3 separate regions of the Homo sapiens genome follow, and all the other regions are linked to region 2. The links come from fine-mapping of genetic effects on plasma protein levels. A gene starts in region 2. Each other region holds a variant in brackets. All regions are shown on one strand. Distances are between the middles of the regions. Region 1 has its middle 16 kb from the start of PBK. Region 2 holds the start of SCARA5 (scavenger receptor class A member 5). Region 3 overlaps SCARA5 (scavenger receptor class A member 5).

The links. A credible set is the group of variants that fine-mapping cannot tell apart. PIP is the chance, under the fine-mapping model, that this variant and not a neighbour inherited with it causes the effect. The UK Biobank Pharma Proteomics Project read protein levels with antibody pairs (Olink). The fine-mapping took linkage between variants from a reference panel, not from the people measured, so its PIPs are less certain.
Region 1: its variant is the best candidate, but not a certain one, in a credible set for the plasma level of the SCARA5 protein (UK Biobank, PIP 0.61).
Region 3: its variant is the best candidate, but not a certain one, in a credible set for the plasma level of the SCARA5 protein (UK Biobank, PIP 0.79).

Annotation. Positions count from the first base shown.
Region 1 is chr8:27,849,056-27,859,538 of GRCh38, reverse strand. No RefSeq gene overlaps it. Among named protein-coding and RNA genes, the nearest start is that of PBK, 16 kb to the right of the region's middle. The variant A/G (reference allele first, on the strand shown) is at 6,289.
Region 2 is chr8:27,987,313-27,997,795 of GRCh38, reverse strand. It overlaps SCARA5 (scavenger receptor class A member 5), which reads left to right and starts at 5,123. Exons shown (of 9, transcript NM_173833.6): 1 at 5,123-5,539; 2 at 10,166-10,292. The coding sequence starts at 10,181.
Region 3 is chr8:27,942,549-27,953,031 of GRCh38, reverse strand. All of the region lies in intron 3 of SCARA5 (scavenger receptor class A member 5), which reads left to right. Among named protein-coding and RNA genes, the nearest start is that of SCARA5, 45 kb to the left of the region's middle. RefSeq lists enhancers at 2,663-3,162, 3,163-3,664. The variant G/A (reference allele first, on the strand shown) is at 4,766.

The DNA.
Region 1 (10,483 bases), 140 kb after region 2:
ACCCTGTCTCTAAAAAAAACAAGATAGTCCTGGCGTGGTAGCTCACACCTGTAATTCCAGCACTTTGGGAGGCCGAGGCAGGTGAATTACTTGAGGCCGGGAGTTCGAGACCAGCCTGATCAACATGGCAAAGCCCATATCTACTGAAAATACCAAAATTAGCCAAGCGTGGTGACGTGCGCCTGTATTCCCAGCTACTCAGGAGGCTGAGACATGAGAATTGCTTTAACCCAGGAGGCAGAGGTTGCAGTGAACTGAGATCGAGCCACTATACTCCAGCCTGGGTGACAGAGTGAGACTCTGTCTCAAAAAAAAATTAAAAGATTAAAAAATATATAAAGTAAATAAATAATAAATAAGATAAAATATGAAATATAGTTAAACATAAGCTTATATGAGCCAGCACCCCAACTCTAGGCATTTACCCTAGAGGAATGAAAATCTCTGTTCACATGAAAGCCTGTCCATGAAACTTTATAGCAGTGTTATTCATAAATGCCAAAACAAAGGGGTACACCCAAATGACACACTACTGCTTAGGAATGAAAAGAAATGAACTATTGACACATGCAAGAGCACAGATGAATCTCAAATATGCTGTGCTAAGTGAGAGAAGCCAGGCCCCAAGGATTACCCACTGTATGATTCCACATTGGGACGTTCTTGAAAAGGTAAGAGTATAGAGGCCAAGATGATACCAGTATTGCCAGGTTTTAGGAGTAAGGAGAAGATTTGACTACCAAGGACGACCTGGGGAAGTTTTTGGAAGATGAAATTATCATGTGTCCTAATAGCAGTAGTGATTATGTATGCACAATTGTTCAAAATTCTTAGAAATGTATATTCTCCAAATTAAAAAAAAAAAATTCTGAGTTCTGGCCGGGCGCAGTGGCTGATGCCTGTAATCCCAGCACTTTGGGAGGCCGAGGCGGGTGGATCACCTGAGGTCAGGAGTTCGAGACCAGCCTGGCCAGCATGGAAAAACCTCGTCTCTACTAAAAATACAAAAATTAGCTGGGCAGGCTCATTACCTGTACTCCTAGCTGTTTGGGTCACTGAGGCAAAAGAATTCTTTGCACCTGGGAGGCAGAGGTTGCAGTGAGCCAAGATCAGCCACTGTACTCCAGCCTGGGCGACAGAGCAAGAGTCTGCCTCAAAAAAAAAAAAAAAAAAAAATCCTGAATTCTACTGTGAGTTAAAAAATTAAAATACAGTAAGTCCCCAGTGAAATCAGGATGTCCCTCCACCCATCCCTACCATCACACTGTGGTCCTCCACCCTCCAGCTCAGTGAACGTTGCAACTCACCCAGCTGGGAGGTGGCAGCTCCCTCTCTCGCTACTCCAGGGAGTGCCTCACTCTTCCCATTCGCAGCTCCCCACCTCACTTAGACTTTCTCAGCCAGCCCTTGATACCAGCTCTCTTGGACTTCTGTACCTTCCTAGCTAGTCTCATCATTTCTACCCTTGCCTACTTTTAGCCAATGTTCCATGTAGCAGCCAGAAAGGATTTTAAAAACACAAATTAGGTCATTACATTCTTTTGCTGAAAACTTTTCAGCAAATTCCCATTGCTCTCAGGATGAAATTCAGAGTCTTTAGGGCTGGTCTCCTCCTTCTCACTCTGGCCTCACCGGTGCCTCCACTGTGTTCACCTTCACCCTAGCATGCTGGCCTTCCATTTCCTCAGAAGCATTGAGCATCACACTCCGTCCAGCCCCAGAGCCTTTGACCCATTCTTCTTTTGGTCTAGCAGTTCTTCTCTTCTGCCACTCTGCTATGTTGATTAACTACCACTTTTCTGCCAGATTTCAGCTCCAATGTTCCTTCCTTCTTGCAGATTTCTAGCAGTTCCCAGGCTAGGGCAGGTGCCTTTTTTAAAAAATGTTTTCATATTACCTGGAATCTTTTTTCAGGGCCCTTATAGCAATTTGTAACAAGGCTGAAAATGTCCTGTCCACCTAAGACAGTAGTTCTCAAATTGTGGTCTCTAGACTAACAGCATCAGTGTCTCCTGGGAACTTGTTAGAAATGCACAATTTCAGACCCCGATCCAGACTTTCTGAATCAGAAACTCTGGGGAGGGGTTCCTGAAGCCTGCATTTCAACAAGCTCTTTAGGTGATTCTGAAACACGCTGAAGGTGAAGAACAACCATCCTAGTATATAACTGATCGTTCTATGTCCATGGTAATGAACAACCACAAGAACTGGGTTTAAACCTGTTTAATCAATCAAGGATAAGTTAATTGGATAACTATGCTTCTTTAAGCCAATTATTTTTAATTAGTGATTAACCATCTACATTGTCATCATCAACAATAAAAATAAACCCTTACATTCATATAGGGTAATCAATTTAAGACAGCTTTACAAGTTACCTGATTTGGTTTGCATATTTGTTCGGTGAGATCATTAAGGCAGTCATTATTATCCCCGTTATGTAATGAAAAAAATGACCCACCGGAGGTTAGGTAAATTGTCTCAAGTCACACAGCTGGTAAATGACAAAATTAAGGTAAAAGATATCCAACCTCTAGTCTAGCACCCTATCTGTTGCACCAAGCTTTCAACATGTGTAAGCAATCATTACTGTAGAAGTCAGCTTCATGGATCTTATAGCAGTGTGCAATAAAAGTAATTTAGAACTGACCTCCTTTTAGCAGAAATGTAAAACCTTTTCACCTCCCACATTAACCCGTTTTGTTATCCCCCACTCCACACTTAGTGATAGTAAAGGATGGCATCATCCATCCCTCTGAGCGTGGAGCCTCCACCCTGCAAATAAGGATGAGCACAGCCTCTCTGTTCTCAGTGTGATGCGCCTGGTGAAGAACCTTCACCTGCCAGTGGGGGCTGGGTGGAAGAAGAGAACATCAGGCCTCTTGGCTGGACTCACCTGGAATTTAGCCCTGGAATTTACAACACACAGCTGATGAAAAATTCTGTGGCCTGCCCCTCCCAGGAACATACCATACCCGAAAGTGGGAGCCGACGGGAGAGGGAGCCTTGCGTTCTTGGCTTTACCTGCCTAGGCTGGAGTTTCTGCCACAGTCAACCCTGGGTAAGGAAGGAGTTACGGTTCAAATGCCATGGACTCTCAATGTTCTTACCAAATTTTACTCCATTTTCTTGAATAAATGTTTATTTATTTGCTATATACTCTTAGGACAATTTCCAGAGACTTTAAATACTGAGGTTTGAAATATATTTTTCACCAGTTATGCTGGCTTTGCTGGAGACTGTGGAGCACCTCGTGTGGCCATTCTGGAAGTGGAAATGTAAATGTTTGTTGTTTTTAAGCTGCTAAGATTGTGGTAATTTCTTATGCGGCATAGGAAAGTACTGTGTGGGGAACTAGTGCTCTACAAAATTTACTTTAAGAAACACTGATATAAGCTAATTAAGCATTGAAATAAGTTGAGAATTAAATTAATTTGAAATGATCATATTGAATGATTAATGGAAAATATACTGATTGTACTTATTTCAACAGTGAAGTATTTTTAGATATGATTTTGTTTTTGTTTTTTTTAGACGGAGTTTTCGCTCTTGTCGCCCAGGCTGGAGTTCAGTGGCACTATCTTGGCTCACTGCTACCTCCACCTCCCCGGGTTCAAGCAATTCTCCTGCCTCAGCCTCCCCAGTAGCTGGGATTACAGGCACGCACCCACCACACCCGGCTAATTTTGAATTTTTAATAGAGAGGGGGTTTCACCATGTTGGCCAGGCTGGTCTTGAACTCCTGACCTCAGGTGATCCACCCACCTCGGCCTCCCAAAGTGCTGGGATTACATGCATGGGCCGCCACACCAGGCCCTATGTATTATTTTGCAAGAGCATACTAATCTCATTCAGTGGCCAAAGCACCACCACCACCTAGTGGCAGCAGGTATTAATTACAAGCAAATATATTTTGGAAAGTTAAGCCAGGTTAAGTGAGCCAGACTGCACATTTTGGATGAAGCAGAGACTTAATTCCTATTAATATATAAAAATCAAAATAATCAAATACTCATTACCAAAATATTTAATAAACATTCCTTTAAATAGATAGCTATACTAGTATATTTACTCTTTTTATATTTAAGTACTTGTCAAAGAAACTTGGAGAAGTAGAATTGAAAGTAAAAGTACGTACATTGAGTCAGCCGGGTGTGGTGGCTCATGCCTGTAATCTCAACACTTTGGGAGGCTGACAAGGGCAGATAACTTGAGCCCAGGAGTTTAAGATCAGTCCGGGCAACATGGCAAAACCCTGTCTCTACAAAAAATATGCATATATAAATTAGCCAGGCATGGTGGTGTGTGCCTGTAGCCCCAGCTACTTTGGAGGCAGAGGAGGAAGAATTGTTTGAGCCTGGCTGGTCAAGGCTGCAGTGAGCCATAATCATGCCACTGCACTCCAGCCTAGGTAAGAGAGTGAGACCCTGTCTCAAAAAAAAAAAAAAAAAAGGTACATACATTGAGGTTGGGTGCAATGGCTCACACCTATAATCCCACCACTTTGGGAGGCCAAGTTGGGAGGATCACTTGAGCCTGGGAGTTTGAGACCAGCCTGGGCAACATAGTGAGACCCCGTCTCTACAAAAAAATTTTTAAAAATTAGCTGGGAAAGCTGGGCATGGTGGTGCACACTTGTGGTCCTAGCTACTTGAGAAGCTGAGGTGGGAGGATTGCTTGAGCCCAGGAGTTGAAGGCTGCAGTGAGCTACAGTCGTACCACTGCACTTCAGACTGGGTGACAGAGTGAGAACTTATCTCTGAAAAGAAAAAATTAAAAAACAAAAAAGTATATATATACATTGACATTTAGCCATAAATGAAGATTAAACACTTTCAAAATATATGAATGGGGAAGTAGGATTGGGTATTAGAAGCCAGATTAACACAACAGTTTTCAGGAATACAGCTACTTTGTAAAATAAAGAATACCTATGTTCAGTATTAACATAATTTAGGATTAAAATCCCAGGATACTTTTCTGTTAGCATAATATATCTCTTAGAAATTCTCTGGTACTTGAAGAGCAGTACAGCTGCTCTGGACTTCATCCAACTTAAGCTAATATCTCTATAATTCTTTATACAGCTAATAAAGTCTCTGGAGTTTTCTCACTGTGATTAAATGCTAGCAAAGACCTTGCCAGAGCCACTTAGCAAAGAACTGGCATGGTAGGCTTCTAGTAACTGAGTGGCCACAGGCAGTCATAGCAAAGATGAGAATCAAGTTCTGTGGAAAATATGTCACATCTGAAAAGAGTCGGTGCTGATTTCTGGCATTGCAGATTCTGCAGCCAAGGCGTCCCCTGTGCAGTGTTTGCTGAAGGTAAATGGAATGTATCACTGCTGCCTCGTTTTCCAGTTTTAATTTATGCTGCTCCTCTAGAGAACTATAAGAGTTTTTATTTTTCTCCCTTTACAAGAAAAATCAAGTAACTCACTCACCCCACAAATTATTTGGAATATGAAGAATCAGTGATGCAAAGCAAAACGTTTTCCATACAAATACTGTCAATGTCCCCTTTCCCTTTAGAATAGAACATGTTTTGATAAATTATAATTCTGGCAAAGTCTTCTCCTCTGGACTTTAGAGTGGGGAGTAGGAAGTCAGATTCCATCAAGCCAAAAGGAGATCTGGGTTGCTGCTATTCCATGTCTGATATTCACAGACGGTTGGGAATGGTCATTTCCTAAGGTTTTCTTCCGTTTGAGAAGGCCCGCTGGCCTCAGCAGTCAGCACGTTCAGGGCTGGATCAGCTGTGAGGGTTTCTGTTGCAGCTGACACCTGACTGTTAACTTCACCTGAGAACCAGAGCTCTGGGTGTCGTTTTGGCAACTAGTCAGTCCATAGCAAGGTTAATAACCAAGAACGGAGTCAGAAAGCCCAGATCAGCCAGACACCTGCTGAATCTACAGCTCTTCATGGGAGCATAGCCTTGGGATCTCAGACCTAAGTGACAAAGTGATTGCCAGGGAATATGCAAGGCGAAGTCAGAAGTGAAAAGAAACATGTCTTGGAACAGCTTATCCCAGCATCTCCTGGTCTGACCCATCTTGTCACAAGCAAGGTCAAGAGAGGGTAACCCTCTTGATACACTCTCTCTTTACATTTCAAAAATATTTACTATGGACTAACAAAACCTATAAGTATACCAGGAATACAAAGATAAATGAGAGACTTTCAAAGCTAAAAATTGTAGATTGGACATAAATACCTTCTTTCACTCCCTCCTAAGACCTTAGTAAAACAAGAATAAAACAATTTTGTCTCTTATGGACATAAACCTACA[A/G]CAATGGGCTATCAGAAGCAGAGACAAAAGTAAACTTTTTTTTTTTTTCTTTTTAGAGACCAGGTCTAGTTCTGTTGCCCAGGCTGGAGTGCAGTGGTGCAATCATAGCTCACTGCCAACTCAACCTCCCAGACTCAAGCAATCCTCCCACCTCAGCCTCCTGAGTAGCTGGGACTACAGGCATGTACCACCAGTCCTGGCTAATTTTTAAATTTTTTGTAGAGAAGGAGTCTTGTTATGTTACCCAGGCTGGTTTCAAAATTCTGGGCTCAACCAAGTTTCTCACCTCAGCCTCCCAAAGGGCTGGGATCACAGGCGTGAGCCACCGTGCCCGGCCCAACAGCCTTTTTGAAACTGGAAAGCTGACGCACAGCAGTGAACGACTTAGCAGACAAGAGAAGGCTGAGTGTTAAGCAGGAAGCAGGAAGGCCACAGGATTCCCAAAAAGCTTAGAACTCAGTGACAGGAGCTACTTTTGGAAGTGGAGGTGAACGTGTGGTTAAAACTAGGCAATTGGTTAAAAATCAATTTAAAAAACAGGCCTAGAAACAGTGACCACACCTCAAGCAATGATTATCCCTAGCACTCAGATTATGTTCTTGAAATACCATTTTCTGCTTTCAAAAGAAAGACATGAGGGCTTCTTGAAGAAATGGCTGATACCAAGCCTGCAGTGAAAAATGCACATGATGAGCCTGGAACATGTTGTCATATGAGTTAAAAAGGAAGCTATGAAAAACTATGAAGGCCATGTGAACAAGATCAGGGGCCAGCTTGGAAAGGTTCCCATGGCCAAACACATTACAGCGAATGTCAGTGAGGATGAGAGTTGCAATGAATTAAAATCCATCAAATCTATTGAAATCCATGTATTCAAAATGATGCCATTTTTAAAACCTAAGTGATCTCCTTTGGAGGATGATTTGGAACTAATTCATTATTTTGAAAACTAGTAAATACATGGAAAAAAATTGAAGCATTAGCTAAGTGTGGTGGCACGTGCCTGTAGTTCCAGCTACTCCAGAGACTGAGGCACGAGAATTGCTTGAACCCAGGAGATGGAGGCTGCAGTGAGCCAGGATCATGCCACTGCACTCTAGCCTGAGCGACAGTGAGACCCTGTCTCAACAACAAAAACAAAAGCATATAAATGGCATAACTCTGTCACAAAATAGTAGTGGAAAGGAAATGAATCAAGAAAGAACTGACAGAATTAAAATATCATTTTGTAGCCTTCAATAAATTAATGGATCTAGTAAATTTAAGCATCAATAACTACTAATTTAAAAAGGCAGACAACCAGACATTCTGTACACCTTGATGATAAAAAGTGTACTATCATCTATTGTTTAATTCATGAATCCAGGTGGAATATATATATATATCTCTAAAGTGTTCACTGTATATTCTTTCAACTTTTCTAATTTTTTAATTTAAAAAATGTTTAATTTACTCTTTATATTATTATGTCAATACTATTCACAGGTGAACTATGTAGTGAATATAATTATTTTTCATTTCTTGTACATTTACTCACCATTGAGTTAATAGTCATCAATTTTTTGTTTTGTTTTCTGCACGCTTACTTAATTCAACCCAAAATGCTTTACCATTATCTAAATCTTCATTCAAGCATTCAGATACATCAAGTACCTTATCTATTTCATCTCCTATGGTTATATACTGATTTTTTAGTTTTAGGTATTATCTATTGAAACTTCCCACTAAGGAAGAGAAGGAGTTATTACTTTCCTCCATCACCCTAATATACATATGCACCCTTCCAGAACTCCATTTTCCAAATATTTTTAGTTAGGAAAATAGCAATGACCAAGAGTACAGGCAATGCTCAGAACCAAACAGGCCTGCCCTAACAAAGCATCACTCCAAGCCTAATAGTATGATCTCTGGCCAAATGAGATTAAATTATAAATCACTAATTCTAAGATACTGAAAAAATGCCCTCAAATATTTGGAAATTAAAAATTATATTTATGTTCTAGCAAACCTACTCTGAGTATGTATCCAAAGGAATTAAAGTCAATGAAGCGATATCTGCACTCTGATGTTGATTGCAGCATTATTCATAATAGCCAAGATATGGAATCAACCTAAGGGTCCACTGATGAATGAATGGATAAAGAAAAGGTGGTAATATATACACAATTGAATACTATTCAGCCATAGAAAAGAAGGAAATCCTGTCATTTGCAACAAGATAGATGAACGTGGAAGATGTTATGCTGAGTGAAATGAGCCAGGTGAAAAAAGACAAATACTGCATGATGTCACTTATATGTTGAAGCTAAAAAAGTTGAACTCCTAGAAGTAGAGAGTAGAATGATGGTTATGAGAGGCTGAGAGGGTGGGGGTGGGAGAGAAGGAAAGCGAAGTAGTTGGCCAAAAGGTATAAAGTTTCAGTTAGACAAGAGAAATACATTTTGAGATCTATTGCACAGCAGGGTGACTGTAGTCAATATTAATGTATTGTATCCTCTAAAAGAGTAAACTTCAGATGTTTTGCCACAAAAAATGATAAGTAAATGAGGTGCTGCCTATGTTTATTAATTTATTCCATGTTGTATAATACATATATCAAAATATCACTTTGTATCCCATACATGTATACAATTATGACAATTAAACCTATTAATTTTAAAATTATATTTATAAGTAACTCTGCATCAAAAAATCACAAGAGAAATTAGAAAATAGTTTGAACTAAAATATAATGAAAATGCAATATGCCAAAATTTGTAAAGCCACTAAAGCAATACTTCAAAGGAATCTATAGCTTTAAATGCTCATATTATAAAAGAAAAGAGGTTTAAATCAATTATCCAAATCTCCACTGTAAGAAGCTGGTGACAGAGGGAAGGGAAGCAAATTAAATCCAAAACAAATAGAAGGAAGAAAATAACAAGGATAAAACTATCTTTCGTCACAGATGACATAGTTGTCTATGTAGAAAATCTGTAAAAATCTTAAAAAAAAAAAAAAAAAAAAGGCCAGGTGCAGTGGCTCACGCCTGTAATCCCAGCACTTTGGGAGGCCGAGGCGGGCGGATCACCTGAGGCCGGGAGTTCGAGACCAACCTGACCAACATGGAGAAACTGTCTCTACTAAAAATACAAAATTAGCTGGGCATGGTGGTGGGTGCCTGTAATCCCAGCTACTCAGGAGGCTGAGGCAGGAGAATTGCTTGAACCCAGAAGGTGGTGGTTGCGGTGAGCTGAGATAGTGCCACTGTACTCCAGCCTGGGCAAAAAGAGTGAAACTCCGTCTCAAAAAAAAAAAAAAAACAACCAAACTCCTGGAACCAAGAAGGAATTATAGCAAGATTTCAAGACACAAGGTTAATATACAAAAATCAATTGCTTTCCTATATACCAGCAATGAACAAGTGGAATTTGAAGTTAAAAACACAGTATCATTTACATTAGCACTCTCCCAAATGAAATAAATTCTGTATAAGTCTAAAAAATATATACAAGATCTATATAGGGAAAACTACAACACACATGAAATAAAGAACTAAATAAATGGAGAGATATTCCATGTTCATGGAAAGGAAGACTCAATATTGCCAAGATGTCAGTTCTTCCCAACTTTATAAATTCAATACAATCTCAATCACAATTTTAGCAAGTTATGTTGTAGATCTCAACAAACTTATTCTAAAATTTACATGGAGAGGCAAAAGACCAGAACAGTCAACATAATAGACTGAAAAGACAAAATTGGAAGACTGACAATACCTAACTTTTTTTTTTTTTTTTTTTTTTTTGAGACAGAGTCTCACTCTGTCACCCAGGCTGGAGTGCAGTGGTGCAATTTCGGCTCACTGCAACCACCACCTCCCAGGTTCAAGCAATTCTCCTGCCTCAGTCTCCTGAGTGGCTGGAACTACAGGCACGTGCCACCACACCCAGCTAATTTTTATATTTTTAGTAGAGACGGGGTTTCGCCATGTTGGCTAGGCTGGTCTCGAACTCCTGACTTCAGATGATCTGCCTGCCTTGGCCTCCCAAAATGCTGGGATTACAGGAGTGAGCCAGCATGCCTGGCCAACACCACCTAACTTCGATACTTACTATAAAGCTACAATAATCAAGACAGTGTGCTATTGGTGAAATAATAGACAAATTGATCAACAGAACAAAATAGAAAGCCCAGATGTAGAACCACACAGATA
Region 2 (10,483 bases):
CTTTTTAAAAATGATAAATACAAATTTTGAGTTTTGAAAGATTACATACTTTTTTTTTTTTAAGACAGAGTCTCACTCTGTCACCCAGGCTGGAGTGCAGTGGCATAATCTCAGCCCACTGCAACCTCTGCTTCCAGAGTTCAAGTGATTCTCCTGCCTCAGCCTCCCAAATAGCTGGGATTACAGGCGTGAGCCACCATGCTCAGCTAATTTTTGTATTTTTAGTAGAGTCAGGGTTTCACCATCTTGACCATGGCTGGTCTCCAACTCCTGGCCTCAAGTGATCTGCCTGCTTCGGCCTCCCAAAGTGCTGGGATTACAGGCGTGAGCCACCGCACCCAGCTGATTACATACTTCTCACCAAGATATTTTTACAAAGCTGAACAATAATAAAAGATAAACACTGGTTTGTAAACGATGGACAAAAATTGCTTTTGAAAAGCACTTATATTTCATGTGAACCAGATTAAAAACTAACCAAAAAGAAAATACTAAAGGTAAACATTTTCGAGTGTATTTTTGCAGAGTAGGCCACAGATAAAGAAATAGCAAGGTCCCTGGGGTAGTCAAATTCAAAGAGACAGAAAGGAGAATGAGTGGTGCCAGGGGCTGGAGGACAGGGGACGGGGAGTTGTTGAATGAGTGGAGTTTCAGTATTGAAAGATGAAAAGAGTTCTGGAGACTGGTTGAACATCAATTCAAATGTACTTAACACTACTGAACTATGTATTTAAAAACAGTTAGGGCTGAGCATGGTGACTCATACCTGTGATCGCAGCACTTTAGGAAGCTGAGGCGGGTGGATCATTTGAGTTTGAGACCAGCCTGGCCAACATGGCGAACCCCCCGTCTCTACTAAAAATGCAAAAATTAGCTGGGCGTGGTGGTTCACCCCTGTAATCCCAGCTACTTGGGAGGCTGAGGCAGGAGAATTGCTTAAGCCCAGGAGGTGGAGGTTGCAGTGAGCTGAGATCACGCCACTGCACTCCAGCCTGGGCCACAGAGTAAGACTCTGTCTCAATAAATAAATAAATAAATAAATAAATAAACAAACAAACAAACAAATAAATAAGGGTTAGGATGGCAAATTTTATGCAATGTGTGTTTTACCACAATTAATTTTTTTAAAAAGTTTAAACAAGAAGTAGCAAACTATAATGAAGAAATATGTAAAAAAAAAAAAAAAAAGAAGCAAAAATATGAACAGTACAGGATCGATGTGTTCCCTGGGAGAAGATAGAGACAAAAAAGAAGGGCGTGGCCTCAGCTCCACTCTGTGCTCAGGGTGAGACCCAGGCTTCCCTCTCCCCTGACCTCCTCTCTCTGGCCACTGCATCCTCTGTGCTCTGGCCACTGGGCCTTTCTCTGCCCCTCCGGCATGTCCAGTGTGTTTCCATACTGAGGCCTCTGAGCCTTCTGTTCCCTGTGCCTGATGCTGTTTCCTCAGATTGTCACACAACCAATATTTCTGGAGCGTGTACTGTGCGCCAGGCACCCTGCTAGGCATTTTGAAGCACTCAAGTGAGCTGCCTTCCTGGAGCTGCTGTTCTAGCAGACAGTAAGCAAAACCAAGCAGGGTGAGGGGGACTAAGAGTGGCAAGGGGTGTGTAGCAATTTTATTTATTTATTTATTTGAGATCAGGTCTCGCTTTATCACCCAGGCTGGAGTGCAGTGGTGCAATCCTGGCTCACTGCAGCTTCGGCCTGCCTGGTTCAAGTGATCCTCCCACCTCGGCCTCCCGAGTAGCTGGGACTACAGGTGCCTGCTACTGCACCCAGCTAATTTTTGTATTTTCGGTAGAGACAGGTTTTCACCATGTTGACCAGGCTGGTCTCAAACTCCTGACCTTAAGTGATCCTCCCGCTTTGGCCTCCCAAAGTGCTGGGATTGTAGGCGTGAGCCACCATGCCTGGCCTGTGGGTAGGAATCATTAGGCTCAGCAGCATGAACAAAGTGACATTTGAGAAAAGATGGGAATGAGGCAAAGAAGTTAGTTGTGCAAACATCTGGTGGAACCACTCCAGGCAGATGGAACAGCCAACCCCAAGCCATAGGGCAGGACCTGCTGGTGTAACGGGCCCAGAGTTCAAGTCAACAATCAGACTTAATGACATAATTAAAGGTGCTCAACTTCATGAGTCATCAGGAAAATGCAAATTAAAACCACAATATGGCACCTCTACAATGCACCAGAGCAGGGAAAATGGAATAAACATCACTGACACTGACAAGGACAAGGAATAAGTGTAGTTTCATCCCCTGCTGGATATAAACTAGTACAACCACCATAGGAAACTCTTTGGCAGTGTCTACCAAAGCTGAACACAGGGCCATCCTATGCCCTGGCGATTCCATGCCCAGGTATATGCCCAAGAGAATGGCATTCATATGTTCCCCAGAAGACACACACAAGAATGTTCACAGCAGCACCATTTATCAGAGTCAAAAATGGAGTCTGGACATGGTGGCTCACACCTGTAATCCCAGCACTTTGGCTGGTGGAGGCGGGAGGATTGCTCGAGGTCAGAAGTTTGAGACCAGCCTGGGCAAGATAGCGAGACCTCATCTCTACAAAGGATTTTAAAAAATTAGCTGGGTGTGGTGGCATGTGCTTGTAGCCCCAGCTACTCAGGAGGTTGAGGTGGGAGGATCACTTGAGCCTGGGAGGTCGAGGCTGCAGTGAGCTATGATTGTGCCACTGTACTCCGACCTGGGTGATAAAGTGACATCCTACCTCTAGAAAAAACAAACTGAAAAAGCTTGGTCCCTCCATTTCAAATACTGAGATTTCATAGATGAAACTACTTCAGAAGTCTATTGAACCCTCCTCTATCAAGGCAATCACATTTTCATTCAGCTTCTGGGGGGGAAATGCCTACTACAAATGCCATCCGTGATTGAATGGAAGCAAATCATTTTGGGGACAATTCTGATTTTAGTGGCAAGGAGGTATCTGAGCTAAGAGCTGCCGGGAGGACTCTCACCCATGAGAAAACCAGCCCTCCAGGTCATTCCTATACTTCACTGTCAAATCTCCCTTTGCCTGTTCCGGCAGCTTTATTCATAATAGACAAAGATTGGAAACATCCCAAACCCCCTTCAGCAGGAGACCGATATACACATTGTGTGTGGTATGTGCCTATCACGCAATAGGACTCAGTGCTTCGAACAGGGCGGGAGGTGGGAGGACAAGCGAGGATGAGCGTGGAGTCCTCACATGGCAGAAAGGCAGAGGATCAAGCCAGCCCACTCCTGCAAGCCCTTTCTACGGCATCCCAAATACATTCATGACTCAAATACCCCCACAAAGGCCCCACCTCCCAACACTGTTGCAATAAAGATTACATTTCCAATGCTTGAATTTAGGGGGACACTAACTACCACATTTCTTGCTAACATACACATCTCTTTAGGGAAGGTCTTTGGACATCACTTTTTTTTTTAAGACAGGATCTTGTTCTGTTACCCAGTCTGGGGTGCAGTGGTGCGATCACAGCTCACTGCAGCCTCAAACTCCTGGGCTCAGTTGATCCTCCCATCTCAGCCTCCCAAGCACCTGGGACTACAGGTGTGCATCACCACGCCCAGCTATTGTTTGTATTTTTTTTTTTTTGTAGAGACAGGGTTTTGTCATGTTGCCCAGGCTGGTTGGACATCATATTTTGAGCACATTTCTGGCTGTTTTTAAGATTACATTCCTAGGAATGTTGGTGAATTGATGGGGGACAAAAACATTTGTTTCCCCTTGAGAGGCAATGGTACAGGGGAGGGGTTAAGAGCATAGACCCTAGGATCACATTGCCTAGGGTTGAATACTAGCTCTGCCACTTACTGGCTACAAGACCCTGGACAAGTCACTTCCTCTCTGTCTCTGTAAATGAGCATAATAGCAGCACCTGCCTCAGGGGGTTGTTGAATAGGTTCAATGAGCTAATATATAAGAAACACATGGTATATGCTATAAAGTGTTGTCTTCTTTTCCTTCTCCTCCTCCGCTCCCTGGGATTATTACCATAATGATACAATTATCATTTGTTCTTTCTGTAAAATGGAGTTTGATGTTGGAGCTGCTTCCTAGGCAGTCAGGCAGGGCAGTCACTGAGAATGAGGACGGCGTTTCTGACTCAGCTGTGGGCGGGCAGCTGCAGTGACACAGCTGAGTCTTGGCAAACACTTTTCATGTACGAAGCCTGACCCTGGAGTCTTGAGGCTGAACTTTTCACCAACAAACAGGAATGCATTCATGAATGTTACCTCTGGGTGCTGTCCTCTGGAAGCCATCTGCATAGCCTAACTCTGCCACCCTGGCTTGGACAATTATGGTGATTTCTCTGATGCCCCTGATACTACCACCTCAATCTGAATTTAGCAGCTCCCTTCACATATGGTTAGATTGCCTTTAAAGAGATTTTTTTTTTTTTTAGAGATGGGGTCTCACTATGTTGCCCAGGCTGGTCTTGAACTTGTGGGTGGGCTCAAGCAATCCTCCCACCTCAGCCTCCCAAAGTGCTGGGACCACAGGTGTGAGTCACTGCACCCGGCCTAGATGTCCTTTTTCAAACGTAAGCAATCATGCTCAGGTTTAGGATTATTCGTGCCTGGGTCCCCCTCCCATACTGAATTGCTATGGACAGCCAGCTAGTCTTCATCCTGCACCCCCCAGCCCCTGTGCAGCGTTAATGAGCCAGAAACGCTGATTCTGCTGCTGAGTTCCGTGGAACCCCCTGGGGCATTTTCCTGACTACCCCCAGTGTGGCCAATCCGTGTCCACTGAGGATGAATGTGACTCCAGGAAAATACATGAAGTAACTCTGTGCCAAGCTTGGTGAATGAATTGAGCCATGCCAATTCTGTGCTATAAATAAATTTACAAGACTGGTTTTCTTGCGTGGCTCATAAGCCAGGTCTAGCTGCCACTCCCCCAGAAGTCTTCCAAAAAGTATTTTGAGCAGGACCTTTAGACTGGGGTGTTGGAGTCCCAAGGCCAAGGCCGACCGCGCTGCTCTGGGCCCAGCGGGCGTTCCCACACGGGGCTGTAATGCCACGATTGGCCGCAGGAGGGGGGCCGTATTCCAGACCCCATTGCAGAAGCCTCCGCAACTGCTCCAAGAACTTTATTTTATACGGACTGGCGGCGAGAGCAGCTGCAGTTCGCATCTCAGGCAGTACCTAGAGGAGCTGCCGGTGCCTCCTCAGAACATCTCCTGATCGCTACCCAGGACCAGGCACCAAGGACAGGGAGTCCCAGGCGCACACCCCCCATTCTGGGTCCCCCAGGCCCAGACCCCCACTCTGCCACAGGTTGCATCTTGACCTGGTCCTCCTGCAGAAGTGGCCCCTGTGGTCCTGCTCTGAGACTCGTCCCTGGGCGCCCCTGCAGCCCCTTTCTATGACTCCATCTGGATTTGGCTGGCTGTGGGGACGCGGTCCGAGGGGCGGCCTGGCTCTCAGCGTGGTGGCAGCCAGCTCTCTGGCCACCATGGCAAATGCTGAGATCTGAGGGGACAAGGCTCTACAGCCTCAGCCAGGGGCACTCAGGTGAGTCTTGGTACTAATTTTGTCCTATCTCCTGGGCATGCTGTCTCAAAGACAGCTGGAGGAGACTGGAGTGAACTGGATGGAGAGGAGTACAGAGTTTGGGAAACTTCAGACCTAGAGCCTGGAGGTGCCTTCTCCAGGTGGGAAGGTCCCCGCCTGCTGGGCCCGCAGATATCTGCCGGGCCCTCATCCAACTGCCTGGGCTGGAGAGAATGTGAGCCTGCATTTGGGGTGCCAGAGGGAAGCTATTGCCTTGGTGGCTACTCCACCTGACTCATGTCACAGCTCAAGAGCCTACTCAGGGTGCAGATGGCTCAGGTGACAGCTCCTCTCCATGGCTTCGTGTGTGTGCATGTGTGTGTGTGCATGTGTGTGTGTGCATGTGTGTGTGTGTGCATGTGTGTGTGTGTGCATGTCTGTGCGTGTGCATGTGCCAGTGGTGGGATATATGTGGGGAGAGGTTATTTCTAAAATATCTGTCTCTGTCCAGCTTTGGGTTATGATTTAGCTTAACTAAGTACAGTTAGAGGAGGAAAACATTTAAAACCTCCTTAGTGATTCTCTCTTTGGAGAAGGGCCACACTCATGTGATTTTTTTCCTTGGTTTTGATGAGTTTAAAGTGAGGTAATCCAAAGAAAAGCCATAAACCCTGCAGAGTTAGATGCGGGTACCCAGAGAAACTGACTTGGTAGCAGCAAATGAGGCTCGTGCTACCCACTCAGAGGAGGAATTAATGGAGTCCTTCTGATCTCCAGAGAAGGATTGAAGAGCCAGGGTCCTGATATCAGCCCTAGAGTGCATTCGCGATTGCCTTTTACAAAGGGAACTTCAAACAGCTTTGTTTCTGAGACTGGCTAGGTAGGAGGGAGGCCTTGGGAACCTGGACACCCCCTTACCTGGCTGCCAGGCAGAGTCAGAAGATGCTGGGGGATGCTTTTTCTCATCAGACTGCCACCAGCTCCCCTGAGTGACCTTGTTCATAAAGTCATGCCACATGCATTATCTCACGGGAGGCTCACAGTGATCCTGGGTGACCAGCAGCTACCCACCTTCCCATCTTAGAGGTCATGTACCTGAGGCTGAATGAGGTCAGGTAATTGAGCCAAGTTCCCCCAAGAAACCAATACGCAGAGGAGCTAGGATGGGAGCCCTTGGCTTCTGTGTTCCCTGCATTCCTGCAGAGAGCCAGGCCTGCAGGGCGCAGATGGCCCCAGGGCACAGGGCTGCAGGGCACAGATGGCTGAGGGCTTTTCCAGCTCTAAAATGCAGAATCTAGAAGCAGATCCCTGGCTCTGAACCTGCCCTTCTAAGTGCCTTGGGTGAAATTGTCTGGAAGTAAATCATGATTGCCAAGAGGTTAGTGGAGAGGGTGACACCTCCCTGTTAGAGCAAGACCTCCCTCTTTGAGTTGCAAGTTGAGGTCCAGTCTCCTTGGGCTTCATCCACAGGTCACTGTGGCTTCCACATCTCGCCCATGTGCTTCAAGCTCTCAGAGCCCTGCCTCAGTCCCAGGATCCCCACCTGCTGGAGTACACTGGCTGGCAGTCTGAGGTGGGATTCTCTTCTCTGCCTGATCTGGGGCCCAGAAAGTGGTCACCAAAGGGGCTGACATGCAATTCCCAAACAAAGCAACCCTGCAGCTGAGCCAGTGCCCTGTGTAGGAAAACTGTGCCCGGGGCCTCTTCCCGCTCTGATATCCATTCCTTCCTTTGCCTCTTTGGTCTGGGATGGCTTATGTTTAAAATGGGAGGGACGGAATGCAAATGCCATCAGCCTACCCCCAACACAGTGCTCCTGGGAGGAGCACTTGCCATCAGTTTCATCTTCTAGAGCACAGACTTGGTCCAAAGACAGTAAGATCCATGATCTGAGGGTCCCAATGCCTGCTTCCTCCCCCAAGAAAGAAAAACAGCCCCCAAGAAACCTTGGGCAGACAGAACATGCGTAGGTTTCAATTCCAAGTAACAAACATGAGTAGAGTTGTCTGAGCTTTTCCAAGCCCTGTGCACTCACATCTGGCCCCGCTCGGCCCCAGTCCCTCTCCCCAGCAGATCCCCTGGGCTCCTGCTGGACCAGCTGAGGGGTGGGGAGGAGGAAGGAGACAGCTGCCCTTCACACACATTCTGGCTAACAAGCCGTGCATTCCAGCCCCGTCCCAGGAGCTGACCAGAAGAGGAGGAAGGTGGAAATGGCAGTGGGGCCTCACACCTCCACTCCCCAGGGGCAGCGCCCTGTCTGGCTCTGTGTGGCCTCTGGGAAGCAGAGGCTATTGCCTTTGGCAGAGGGAGGGTTATTGCAGGCAAAAGAGACATTGGCCTCCTGCTTCACAGCCCCGCAAGGAGTGAAGCCAGAGGGAGGGCTGCCGCACACAGTGCTCATGAAATGAGGGAGGGTCCCTTGCAACTTAGCAGTGCTGGAGCTGCCCGCGGCCCCACCTAGAGGCCCTGCCTGGGTGGAGGCATTGGGTGGAGGGCCGGAATTGGGAGCCCAGTGAACTGGACACCACTGCAGCACAGGGAAGCCAGAGTGGGTGGTGTCTGGGGCAGGGAGGAGAGATCCTGGCAGAGCCGAGGACCACCCCCTGTTCCATCCCTCCCATAGGCTGGAGGAGAGGCCCGCAGATACTGGGAGCCCCAAGGCTGTGTGTGTGCACATGCGTGTGTGTGCCCGTTATGGGGGATGTACAGAAGGGCTAACAGCAGAGGCGTCCAGCCCTCCTGGGTCATTAGAAGGACATGTATACAGTGACTGGTCAGTTCTGGTCTCTTCTCAGCCCAAATGTCAGAGGTCTGTGGAGGCCAAGCTCAAGTCATGAAAATAGGGGCTTCAGCTGGGTGCAGTGGCTCACACCTGTAATCTCAGCACTTTGGGAGGCTGAGGCCAGTGGAGCGCTTGACTCCAGGAGTTCCAGACCAGCCTGGCCAACATGGTGAAACCCCATCTCTGCAAAAAATTAGCTGGACATGGTGGCTTGTGCCTGTAATCCCAGCTACTCAGGAGGATGAGTTGGGAGGATCACTTGAGCCCGGGAGGCGGAGGTTGCAGTGAGCCAAGACTGCACCACTGCCATCCAGCCTGGGCAACAGAGTGAGACCCTGTCTCAAAAAAAAAAAAAAAAAAAAAAAAGAAAGAAAGAAACAGAAAAAAAAAAAGAAGAAAGAAAATACGGAATTCTTGTTTTGCTCTGCTGCAGAGCAACCCCGCCAGCCGCCTTCCCTGATTATGTCTATTTATGAAAGTTGCCACGCCTCCTTGCCCACCCTCCCTCTGAAGAGAAACTGATTGACTGATCTCTCAATCAACAGGCATTGTCCCCCCACTGCCACCTGCCAGCCCTGCATCCTCTCCTCCCAGCCTCCTCTGGGTTGAAGGGTTGAGTTTGCTCCATACTGGGCCTGGGACCCATCCTCATGGGGCTTTTATCTTCTAAAGGATGCTGTTCTTTGGTTAAATGTCCAGATAGTTAAAGAGAATCAGAAGCAAAGGTCAAGATAAACTCATGGCTGGAACCTTGATGAAAGTAGAGAATAATTTGTAAAGTCACTGAGCATTTATGTGACAAAAACAATATCAAGAAATTGATGTATATACTTTGTAATTTGGCTTAAAAAACAGATTCTTCTCATTACATAAGGAATGTAAATGCATCATAGAAAACCCAGAAAATCTGAAAGCAAAAAGGAATATTAAATCCCCACAATCCCTTCCAGCCAGAGTCCTGTAATACATTTCTCACCCGGAGCCATCATAGCGTCTTACATCCACACGCACCTTACGCGTGCATGTCTTACAAAATGGGATCGTGTTGTACACATTGTTGCGTCAACAGGCTGTTTCCTTTCAAAGAGCATAGGATTCTCCTAAGTCAATGTATATGCTCCTGGACCATCATGGCGTAGACCCAGAGACCCAATGAGTCAGCCTCTGGGGGCCATGCAGACAGAAGCCCTCCCTGGCCTAAAGCTGTCCAGATGCTTAGTGCCTGGGTGTCCCTTCAGAGGCTCCCTGCTCCTCGGGCCCCACCACAGTAGATGAATCCCTGCTGTGGTCCTACTGAGCCAAGCTCCTTCCAACATGCCAGCCCCGTTGGATTTGGGAGCAGTCCTGGTCTGCTCAGCTTTGTTTGCAAGTGGACTCTGTACCCCCTCTGAATGCCCCTTCATATCTAGTTTCCTTCCTTCATTTCCAACACAGAACAGAAGCTCAAGTCTCTCTGGCATGCCCCGGGCTTCTGAGGGCTCAGAGCCTGCTCTCAGGTTACCTTTTGAGTCAGCAGGGTTCCCTCCTCCTGGCCCCACCCAGTGTAACCCACAGTGACCCCAGCTCAGGATTCCAGCCCCACTGAGAGTTGTTGAAAGGAATGGACACATCCCACCATCAGAAAGGCCCAAGGGCCTTGGTCTTCTGAAGCCCTGAGGAAGCTGGGAGTGGGGGCATCACGGCCCCAAGGACCTGGAGGATGGCACCTGGGTCCTGGTGATGAGCAGAGGGTCCCGGTGTTCAGGCTTAGGGTCAGGGGTGGGCACCTTGTTCTATCCATTTGCTTCTGTTTCCACCTACAGTTGATTCTCTGTCTCTCTCCCGGCCTTCGTCCTCCCTCTCCTCCCCTCTTGCCTTCTCTGCAGCTGTTGCAGGGTGTGATGGAGAACAAAGCTATGTACCTACACACCGTCAGCGACTGTGACACCAGCTCCATCTGTGAGGATTCCTTTGATGGCAGGAGCCTGTCCAAGCTGAACCTGTGTGAGGATGGTGAGTGCAGCTGGCTCAGACTTGGGGCACAAGATCTGGCCTGGGGGTGGGGAAGGAGCCCTACCACCACCCAACCTTGGCATTGCCTTTAAGTGCTTGTGACCTCCTCATGTAATAGTGCATATATTGAACTTTATGCTTTAAAAGGTCTTCTCCATGGGTTTTCTCATTCATTCACTTCCACAAACCTG
Region 3 (10,483 bases), 45 kb after region 2:
TGCTTCAGGGTCTGACATCCACATGCATCTGACATTTATCCTGCAAAAGTGATCTGCTCTAAGCAATACCCTGTTCACTCTTGTGCTAAAAAAGAGTTCCTGCCTCTCTTTCTCTTTCTGACTTTTGACAAAAGGCTCCCTTCTGTTATCCTGGCTTGGCCTGTGCTTGGTTCCAAAAGGAACTGGGTATGTGTTACGACTAGAAAAGGGGTGAAGAGAGAGTGGGAAAAAAATCCACTCTGTCTCACAGTGTTTCGCTACAATAAATAATGCTTGCACACAGTCCATTGTCCATACGGCCAATAATTTCCTTAGGATAGGTCCCTACTTGGGGTATTGCTGTCAAAGTGGGTATATGTTTAAGGCTTAATAGAAAGACTGCACCAATTTGCAGGGAATGATAGGATTTTTCATTATTCTGCCTCTCTGCATGGCTTGTCACTCTCAGGCCCACAGGAAGGTCTTGCTGGCTGTGAGGAGTGAAGAGTACAGGGCTAAGGGAAGTAGCTCTGCAGGGTCTGCAGCCTGTGTCCCCTGGGTGATGGCAACGAAGGCAGAAAGCCCCCTGACCACTCCCTGTGCAAGGACTTGGTCCATAAAGACTGGGATCTCCACCCCAACCCTTGATCTCCAACTGCCAGATGGTCAGAAAACAACCACCCAGCTGTGTCCATCTCCTAGGACTGCTCAAAGTACCTCAAACCGGGTGGCTTTAAATAACAATTTATTTTCTCACAGCTCGGAGGATGGAAGTCCAAAAAAGGCACGAGCAAAGGCTGCACTCCCTCTAGAGGCTGTGGGAAAGGATCCTTCTTTACCTCTTCCAGCTTCTGGGGGTGCCAGCCACCCCTTTGTTTCTTGGCTTGTAGGCTCATTGCTAAAATCTGCGCTCCCATCGACACCCAACCTTCTTCCCTACATGTCTGTTTCTGTGTCCAGATCTCCCTCTTCTTCTAAGGACACTAATCATATTGGTCCCCAACCCAATACAACCTCATCTTAGTTTGATTACACCTACCAAGAGTTTATTTCCAAATAGGTTCTGGGTGGACATGAGTTTGCAGGGGACACTATCCTGCAAAAGTGACCTGCTCTAAGCAACACCCTGTGCACTCAGGGCTAAGAGAGCATGTCACCTGGAGCTCACATGTCCCTCCTTCTGGGTCATGCTCTGAGGACCTGGGACTGGAATTCTCTGGTGTGTTCGAGTTCGCTCGAAGTCATTCCCCGTGAAAAATGTTGAAAGGAAGAAGGGATTCCGGACCTCCTCTTCTCCAGCCTTGTCTCAGGGAACCTCCCCTGCATGAGGAAGAGGAAGGATTTTCCTTCCTCCTCTGGGTACAGGAGGCACATTCCCTGGCGTGGAGCACACTTGCCTTCTGCCTTACCGTGTGGCCATGGGCAGTCGCTGATGGCACCGTGCAGGACGGGACGGGCCTCTGCACCGGAGGTCCAGCCTCGGGTCTCCTGACCCTGGCACTGCCACAAGCTGTGTGACCTTGGGCAGGGGGCCTTGCCCCTGTGAGCCTCGGGGGCCTGACCACTTGACACATCAATGGTCACCAGTCATTCGTTGGTCACCAAGAAAACCCATGTCTACTTTGGGGCTCTTTAAAGGTTCTGTTGGGGGCTCTGGGTTGAGAATTTCTGGGCTGGACCTTCAGAGCTCCATTGGCGCCGATCAGTTTTTGGACCTTGGGAGTGACCACAGCTCCGGCTCCCACACTGCCCTCCTGCTCCACTCAGCACAGCTCTTGTCCTGCTCAGGCATTGATACCGGTTTTCTGTGTCTGACTCCACACTAAACTGTGACCTTTCTGGGGGCACATATATGAATCCCTCTGTATCATTCACTAGCCTAAATTTTAGAATTACATGGACTTGCATTTCAAACCCATTCTGCTCTTTTTAAAAATTCCATGAGTTTGGGCAAATTTCTAAACCTCTTTGAGCACCAGTTTTCTTATCTGTAAAGTGGGGATCCTAAGGCCATCCTCTGAGTAACGTGGAGACCCTTAGATGAGATGATGTATTAAGCACCCACCATTCCTCTTGAGAAGGGGTGAGTCCCTGTGTATGGTACTATAACAGCAGTTATTGGTGAGGTCTGTGGAATAAATGGCTTAGTCCACACTGACCTTTTTTTTTTTTTCCCATAAAGCTGAGTGCTGAAATAGGAGTTTTGTCACAGAGCTCGTTCCGATCGGTTGAATGGGTACAGAGGTGCTGTCTGTTAATATACGCTCAAGGAAAGTGCTGGCACTGGATTCCGAGGCATTGCTAAGTGTCTCAGGTTCCTGAGACCAAGGCACCTGCCCTAGTCCCCATGTGTTAGAGGGCCCCACTCTGTCCCTCTGGCCGCTTCCCAACCCACAAGGTGAGGCATCCTGAGGGCTAAGAGAACATGGCACCTGGAGCTCACATGTCCCTCCTTCTGGGTCATGCTCTGGGGACCTGGGACTGGAATTCCCTTCCCCAAAGCCTCAGCTTTCTTCCAGGTCCTTTGGGCTGTTCTGGGAGAGGGAAACCACGGTGCTGGCCAGAGGGTGACAAAGGGAGGGTTGCTTGCCGGCATTAGGTGGGGATTAGAGTTGGCCGTGCAGGCTGGGATGCCCCCCAAGCACGGGCATGAGGCCTGTGTGGAAAGGGTCTGCTCGAGGATGGGATTGGGGGTGTGTGTGGGGTGGGGGTCTCCTTACAAGGCAGGGATCTGGACCAGGTTCCAGGTAGTCGTGCATATTCCTGGCAACCCCCAGGTCTGGCTCGCGTCAAAGTGCAGACATAGGTGGTTTAATGGCAAAGAGCGTGTGGGTGTCCCTGCCTCAGCCCCTGGGGCTGGCATGCAGTTGGCAGGAGGATGTGCTAGACCCCTTCCCCTCCTTGGTGGCTCTGCACCTGCCCTGGCTGCAAGGACTCACTCCCAGGTGGCCAGTGGGTGGCATTCCCCCAGCGTTTCCAGGCTCTCAGCCCCTTTCTCACCACAAGGAGCCACGGTGGGCTGGCCACATTACTGAGCCTCCCTAGGTCTCTGCTCAGGCCCTGGTGGACCTGCCCAAGGCCAGCCTGCTTGTTCATGCTTAGCAGCACCATCAGCAAGGCCAGCTTAGTCCAGCTCCAGAACTTTCTGCAACAGCCCTTCTTTCTGTGGATGGGCAGTGGCTCCCCTCAGGTCCCACCCCACTGCAACCTGCAGGGCCTCTTCAGGAGCCAGACCCATGTCCCTGGCCCCTTCTGCACCCGGGCAGGCTGTAGGGGAGGACTCAGACCTGAGACACTGCCAGGCAGGGGCTTTTCCCATCCAGCTCCGGGTACCGTGGGCGTGAGTTTCCACGGGGAAAAGCCCTCTTGATGGGATGCGGTTGGGGTGGAAGGAGGACAGGAGGTGAGTCAGGCACTGCTGCTGCTCTCCGATCTGCCTGCCCTGCTTCCAGGCTGAGTTATGCGGCAACAGTGGCCTGATTCCTGAGCTACTCAATCCATAGTGTCCCAAAGACCCCCATGCTCCCACATGGTAGCTGCCAACCTCACCCAACTCCACCCTTACGGTTACAGTAATAATCATATTTCCCATCCAATAGGTTACTTGAGCCTCACCCACTGCTCTGAGGGAGACACTATTATCCCCATTCACAGATGAGAAGACTGAGGTCCAACGAGGTTGATAGTTCTCATAGGAGAAAATAAATAGTTGCTGATTAAATTTAAAGGGCACTGGTGGTTAAGGTCAAAGCTGGGCTGACTCTGGTTTCCTGGTCAAGAGCTCCGTCTCACTAATCCCTGCTGTTCCCCTGTGATTGCCACCTGGCTTCTACTGAGGAAATACAGATTAGCTGGAAAGCCAAGCTCTGAGCCACGTGGGCTCTGCTCATGTGTGATCAAGACAGGCCTGGGCCTCAGGTCCCCTGAAGCTCACTGTTCTGTCCACCACACCACCAGCCTCTGAGCAAGAAGTAGATAGGGAAACTGAGGCACCCCGAAGTGAGGGACAAGGAGGGTGGCTTCCCACAAAGAATACTAGCACCAAGCCAATTGTGGGCTCCACCCGCTTGTGCTTCGTTCATTCAGCCTGGCCATGTGGGTTTTTATAATATCTGCTTTTGCAATATAAACTATGCACATCGATATACACAAACGGCCATAACACCACATTGCAAATTACAAAGCAAAACGCATGAACTCTCAAGGATGGATTTTTAAATTTCCTTGATAAGGCTGGGGCTTATGGAAAAGTGCCCATTCCCGTCTGTAGTCCATTGCTTTCAATTTAACTAGGCGTTTGGGGCTGGAATCGTTTTTTCCTCCCCTTTCAGTCTTGGAGCGAGTCCCACAGCTAGGCTTCCTGCGCTCAGCTGTTTGTTTTTCTTCCTTGGAGAGGGACTGGGGAATGTTACCCACCAAGCCCCGTGGGACTGGCCAGTTTGAAGAGCTCTCCAGGCCCCTAGCTGCTCAAATCCCAAACACATGGAACCGGGCCACACCCTTCGGCCCAGTGGACAGAAAGGCTGGCCTGGCGGTCCTGACCTGCCGGTGGAACGGCCCAGCCCCAGGCCCTGCCGCCTTTGTATTTGATGGAAGAGAAGATAGGGGAAGGGGAAGGAAGGCTCCAGCTCGTGGCTCCCAGCCAGGTCCTGAGACTTCAGTTGTGAAAGCTGAGCTGGGGCCTCCCTGCCTCCCTCCCAGAGGGCCCATATATCTTGTGGCCTTGGGTGTGGCCAAGGCTGAGTCTGAGTAATTGCTTGCCTGGAGCAGCCAGACCCTCCCCTAA[G/A]TCACCGCCCTCACCCTGGGGAGGAGGCCTGCAACCCAGCCCGAGGCCAAATCTGTCCTCCACCCCCGACCCCACCCAGCTCCCCTCCTCAGTTACCTTTTAGAATTTTCTTTATTCTGGTGAAATACACAGAACATAATATTTATCATTTTAACCATTTTTAAGTGTAAGGGTCAGTGACATTAAGCATGTTTACATTGCCGTGCAACCATCGCCACCACCCACTAGCAGAACTCTTCATATCTCCAAGCTGAAACTGCATCCACTAGACCTGAACTCCTCATTCCCCCAGCCCCTGGCAACCCCCATTCTACTTTCTGTCTCTATGGATTTGTCTTCTCTTGGGGACCTCATATCAGTGGAATCAGACAGTGTTTGTCTATCATGTTTTTATTTTATCTTTTCACTCTGTCACCTAGACTGGAGTACAGTGGCGTGATCTCAGCTCACTGCAACCTCTGCCTCCCGGGTTCAAGCAATTCTCCTGCCTCAGTCTCCCAAGTAGCTGGGATCACAGGCATGTGCCACCATGCCTGACTTTTTTTTTTTTTTTTTTTTAGTAGAGACACGGTTTCGCCATGTTCAGGCTGGTCTCGGACTTGGGCCTCCCAAAGTGCTGGGATTACAGGCGTGAGCCTTTATGACTGGTTTATTTCACTTAGCGTAATGTTCTCAAAGTTCATCCAGGTTGAAGCAGGGGTCAGAATTTCCTTCCTTTGTAAGGCTAAATACTATTTCATTGCTTGGCTAGACCACATTCTGCTTATCCATCCATCTGTCAGTGGACATTTGGGTTGCTCCCATCTTTCGGCTGCTGTGAATAATACTGCTATGAACATGGGTGTTCAGGTATCTGTTCAAGCCCTTGCTTTCAATTCTTTTGGGCTTGTACCCAGAAGCAGAATCTCTTGCCCTTTGGATTTTTAAGCCAATTTGCCCTTGGAAGTCCAACAGAGGCTGGGTGCAGTCGCTCATGCCTGTAATCCCAGCACTTTGGGAGCCCAAGGCAGGTGGATCACCTGAGGTCAGGAGTTCGAGACCAGCCTGGCCAACACGGCGAAACCCTGTCTCTACTAAAAATACAAAAGGTAGCCGGACGTGGTAGTGCATACCTATAGTCCCAGCTCCTCGGGAGACTGAAGTAGGAGAATCACTTGAACTTGGGAGGCAGAGGTTGCAGTGATCCAAAGCCACACTACTGCACTCCAGCCTGGGTGACAGAGCGAGACTCCCTCTCAAAAAAAAAAAAAAAGCCCAACAGGATATTCTGACCACCTGGGATCTCTGTTCGCTAGGAGAGACAGAAGAAACTGAAGGAGAACAGTGAAAAAAAACAAAAGCTAAGGGGATCATGAATTCAGTCATTCTGCAGGATCTCAGTTCAACGAGTTTGCTAAAACAGAAATCAGGGAGGGGTGGGTTGTTATTTGAAATGCAGATGCCCAAGGCCCACCCCTTCCTAAATCAGAAAGGGGGGCATTCCACTCACTGGGATGAAGAGGGCAAAGGAGGCCTCGTCAGATTCTCTCTGGCCCTGGGCACACTTGGTGGTGCCTACAATGACCCATAATCCACTGTGCCTGGGGCTCCTGGTCCTACCCTTAGATAGAGCCAAATTAGCCCTGGCTGGCTGGGTTGTCTCTTACAGTCTGTATTAGTTTGCTGAGGCTGCCATAACAAAATACCGCAGCCTGCATGGCTTAAACAATAGATGTAGTTACTTTCTCTCAGGAAGGCTGCAAGTCCAAGATCAAGGTGCTAACAGGGCTGGTTTCCTTTGAGTCCTCTCTCTATCCGTGGTTGATTGAATTTGAGAATGTGAAACCAGCAAATACAGGAGGTCCAATGAAGGGACCTGAGCATCTGAGGATTTTCTGTGGGGGATCCTGGAGCCAATCCCTTCAGAGAAGAAGGCTGCACTCATAATTCCACTCCTCTAAAGTCAGTTGTTTTCACGAATCCTGGTTTTCTTTTAATCCTTTGTGTGTATGTGCTTGCTTCCTGTGATAGCGTATGCATGTCCCACATTGTTACATGGCAGACTTCATGGTTGTCATTTTTAGAGCTTCATTAAAGTTCATCTGGTTAATGTACCATGATTTAATTGTTCCTAATTGCTCATCCACGACTTCTCTAGGTTTTCACTGCTACAAATAAGAGAGTGATAAATTTCTCACTGCTGTAGCATTTCCCTTCTTTTGGGTTACTTCTTAAATTCCCAGGAGAGAGACTATTTTGCAAAGGATGTGAACATTTTTATGGCTATTGATACTTTTTGCCAAATTGCCTTCCAAAAATATTTGCACAGTCATCAGCAATGTTTAAACACACTAGCGTTCACCACGGTCTTGCCAGCATGATGTAGCACTGTTCCATTACTTTTAGAGATTTCCTTTTTTAAAATTTGCATTTCTTTGATAGCTAATAATCTCATCAAGCTTTCCATACATTTGATTATTCATTGTGTCATCTCTTAAGGAGACTGGCTGTTTAAGCCTTTTGCCTGGTTACTATGTGAGGTCAAATCAGGCATTTATAAAGTGTCTAATACATACTCACTACCATGGGGTGCTATAGGGGGACCAAGGAAGTATAAGACCTGGTTCTTATCTTCCAGAAGGCTATGATTGACACTCACATCTTATTTACTTGTTGTTGATTTCTTTGTACCCAACCTGCTGCTTTGCACAACCTGTATGCTTCATAAATCTTTATGTAGTTAAATCCCGGATGACATGTTTGTTGTCTTTGTGGTTCACAGAGATCAGCACTCAATTTAAAGGAATGCGGAATCAGAACCCAAAATAAGGCTGAAACCCAGAGAGATAGCTTAGACCTGGTCAATTAATATGGACACACATGAAGTAGTGCCCCACAAATGGGGAAGCCACGGCTTGACATCAGTTTTTAAAGCAAGGTTGAGGGTTTGAGTTTGGCAGGATGCAGTCTATGAGTCAGTGTGTGACATGCCTGCCACCAAAAGCTATCGTGATCAAAGTTACGTTCATAGAGAATAAGGGAGGCACCAGTATTATTTGGCTCCATGCAGGTTAGACAACTCCTCAGTGTTTCCTTTTTTTTTTTTCAATTTATTATTATTTTTTTACAGTCTCATTCCCATCACCCAGGCTGGAGTGCAGTGGGCACAATCACAGCTCACTGCAGCCTCTTCTTCCTGAACTCAGATGATCCTCCTACCTCAGCCTCCTGAGTAGCTGGCACTACAGGCCTATACCACCACACCTGGCTAATTTTTTGTATTTTTAGTAGAGATGGTTTTGCCATGTTGCCCAGGCTGGTCTTGAGCTCCTGGGTTCAAGTCATCCACCTGCCTCAGTTTCCCAGAGTACTGGGATTACAAGCATGAGTCACAGCGCCTGACCTCAATTATTTTTTTTTGAGACAGGCTCTCGCTCTGTCGCCCAGACGAGTGCAGTGGCGTGATCTCGGCTCACTGCAACCTCTGCCTCCCAGGTTCAAATGATTCTCCCACCTCAGCCTCCCAAGTATCTGGGATTGCAGGCAACTGCCACCATGCCCAGCTACTTTTTTTTTTTTTTTCTATTTTTACAAAATGGAGTTTCACCATGTTGGCCAGGCTGGTCTCAAACTCCTGACCTCAGGTGATCCATCCACCTTGGCCTCCCAAAGTGCTAGGATTACAGGCATGAGCCACCATGCCTGGTCTTAATTTTTTATTTTTTAAAAAATGTTAAACCTACAGAGAAGTTGGAAGCTATAAAGAGTGCTATATACCCTTCATTTTAATATTGTTAACATTTTATGCCATTTGCGTGTACCTGCTCTCTCTTCTCGCCCCACGTTTGTTATTACCATTTTTAATTTTTGTGGAACCATTTGACAGTGAGTTGCAAACTTCACCCCTAAATATGTTAGTGTGTATTTACAAGAACAAGGACATTGTCTTATATCACCACTATACAATTACTGAATTCAAGAAATCTAATGCTGATTATAAATACAGTATATCCATATTTAATTTTCTTCCGTTGCTCCAAGAATGTCCTTTATAACCATTTTTAAAACTCCTGATGCAGGATCCAATCCAGAATATACATGTGGTTTTCATGGCTCCATAGTCTTTTCTAGATGGGTTCCTTGCCTTTCACTGTATTTCATGACATGGACATTTTAAAGAATGCAGGCCAGTTGCTTGCTATCCTGTCCTTTAACTTGGGTTTGTTTAATTGTTTTCCCATGATTGACGTAGGTTAAACCTTCTTGGCAGTAACACTTTCTAAGTCATTTGAGGAGGTGGATTGTGTCAATTTGTTCCTGTACTGGTAATGGTAAATTTGGTTAAGGTAAATTTGGTCAGAATAATCTACTGTAAAGCTATCTTTTATTCCCTCTGATTAAGAAGTGATCTGTGGGGAGACACTCTGAGGCTGTGTAAATACACTGATTGCCAGCAATCCTTCACTCCATGATTTTAGCATCCACTTACAATTCTTGCCCGAGTCAGTTATTACAAAGGTGGTCATCAAATGTGGCTTTTCTAACCCTCTTCATTGCTGTTTTCCTCTCTGACCGCTGCAATGTAAGGTGGCTGCAGACAGTGGTGTGCTGGTCAGCTCTGATTACGTGCGTCTTTTCCTAACTCCGTAGTCAATGATGTCATGTTGGTAGCTTGAAGTCGGTCATAGTGGGATATTTACACCTCAAACATTGGCAAGCACCACAGCTTAGGCTTCTCCCCAACCCCTTGGAGAACCAGTTGTTAAACATTTATCAGCATACCGCTGGATGCATTTAAGCTAAAACACATTCAGGAAAGAATGACTTTGGCAATAAAGGGACTTTATAATTATTTTTAGTCAGAGTCTCACTCCCGTCACCCAGGCTGGAGTGCAGTGCTCACTGCAGCCTCCATTTCCCAGGCTCAGGTGATCCTCCCACCTCAGCCTCCGGAATAGCTAGGACTACAGGCTCACACCACCATGCCTGGTTTGTAAAAACACAAGCTTTTTGTATTTTTAGTAGAGACAGGGTTTTGCCATGTTGGCAAAGGAAACCTTAAGGAAAGGGGATCCATCTTCAAATATTTAGAGGGCTATCTTGTGGGGTACCCTCATTAGTTAGGATGCAACCTCCTAACACACCCCACCCTTCCAACCTCTTGGTGCTTCTATGTTGGATGGCTCCTTCAAGGCATCACAGGACTGCACCTCTCCCACCACTGGCTTCCTATCAAGGAGCCAGCAGGGAACAGAATGGAACACAGAGGGTGCAGGTCACCTTGAGCAGGAAGAGGGATGCTTCTTACTCTCATCTGAGAAGAAGCAGTGTGTTTGCAGAACTATGGTGAGGTGCAGAGGAGGTGGCATTCATGCTAAATGATGCAGAGGAGATGGTGTTCTTGCTAAATGGCTTTCATGTTCTTGGTAAAGTGGATATAGTTACTTCCAAGAATGAGAGAGGCAAAGCAGGCTTCAGCATTAAGAAGCATGAAGATGCTTTGAGATAGCAGCAAAGGGCATTTTTTTTTCCAGCCCTCCAACCCACTCAAGGCAGCCCAACTCCAGGATGTTCAAGCAGCACAAGAAAGGGCCAAGTCAGCGTAACACTTCTGCAGTACCGTGCAGCCCGAGAGTTAAAGTGGGGAAGGAAGTGGACGCAGGTGCTCAGAGTTCACCACTGATGTATACAAAAGTTGATAAACTCTCCCAGAGGCCGGGGCATCGGAAGGCAGCTCTG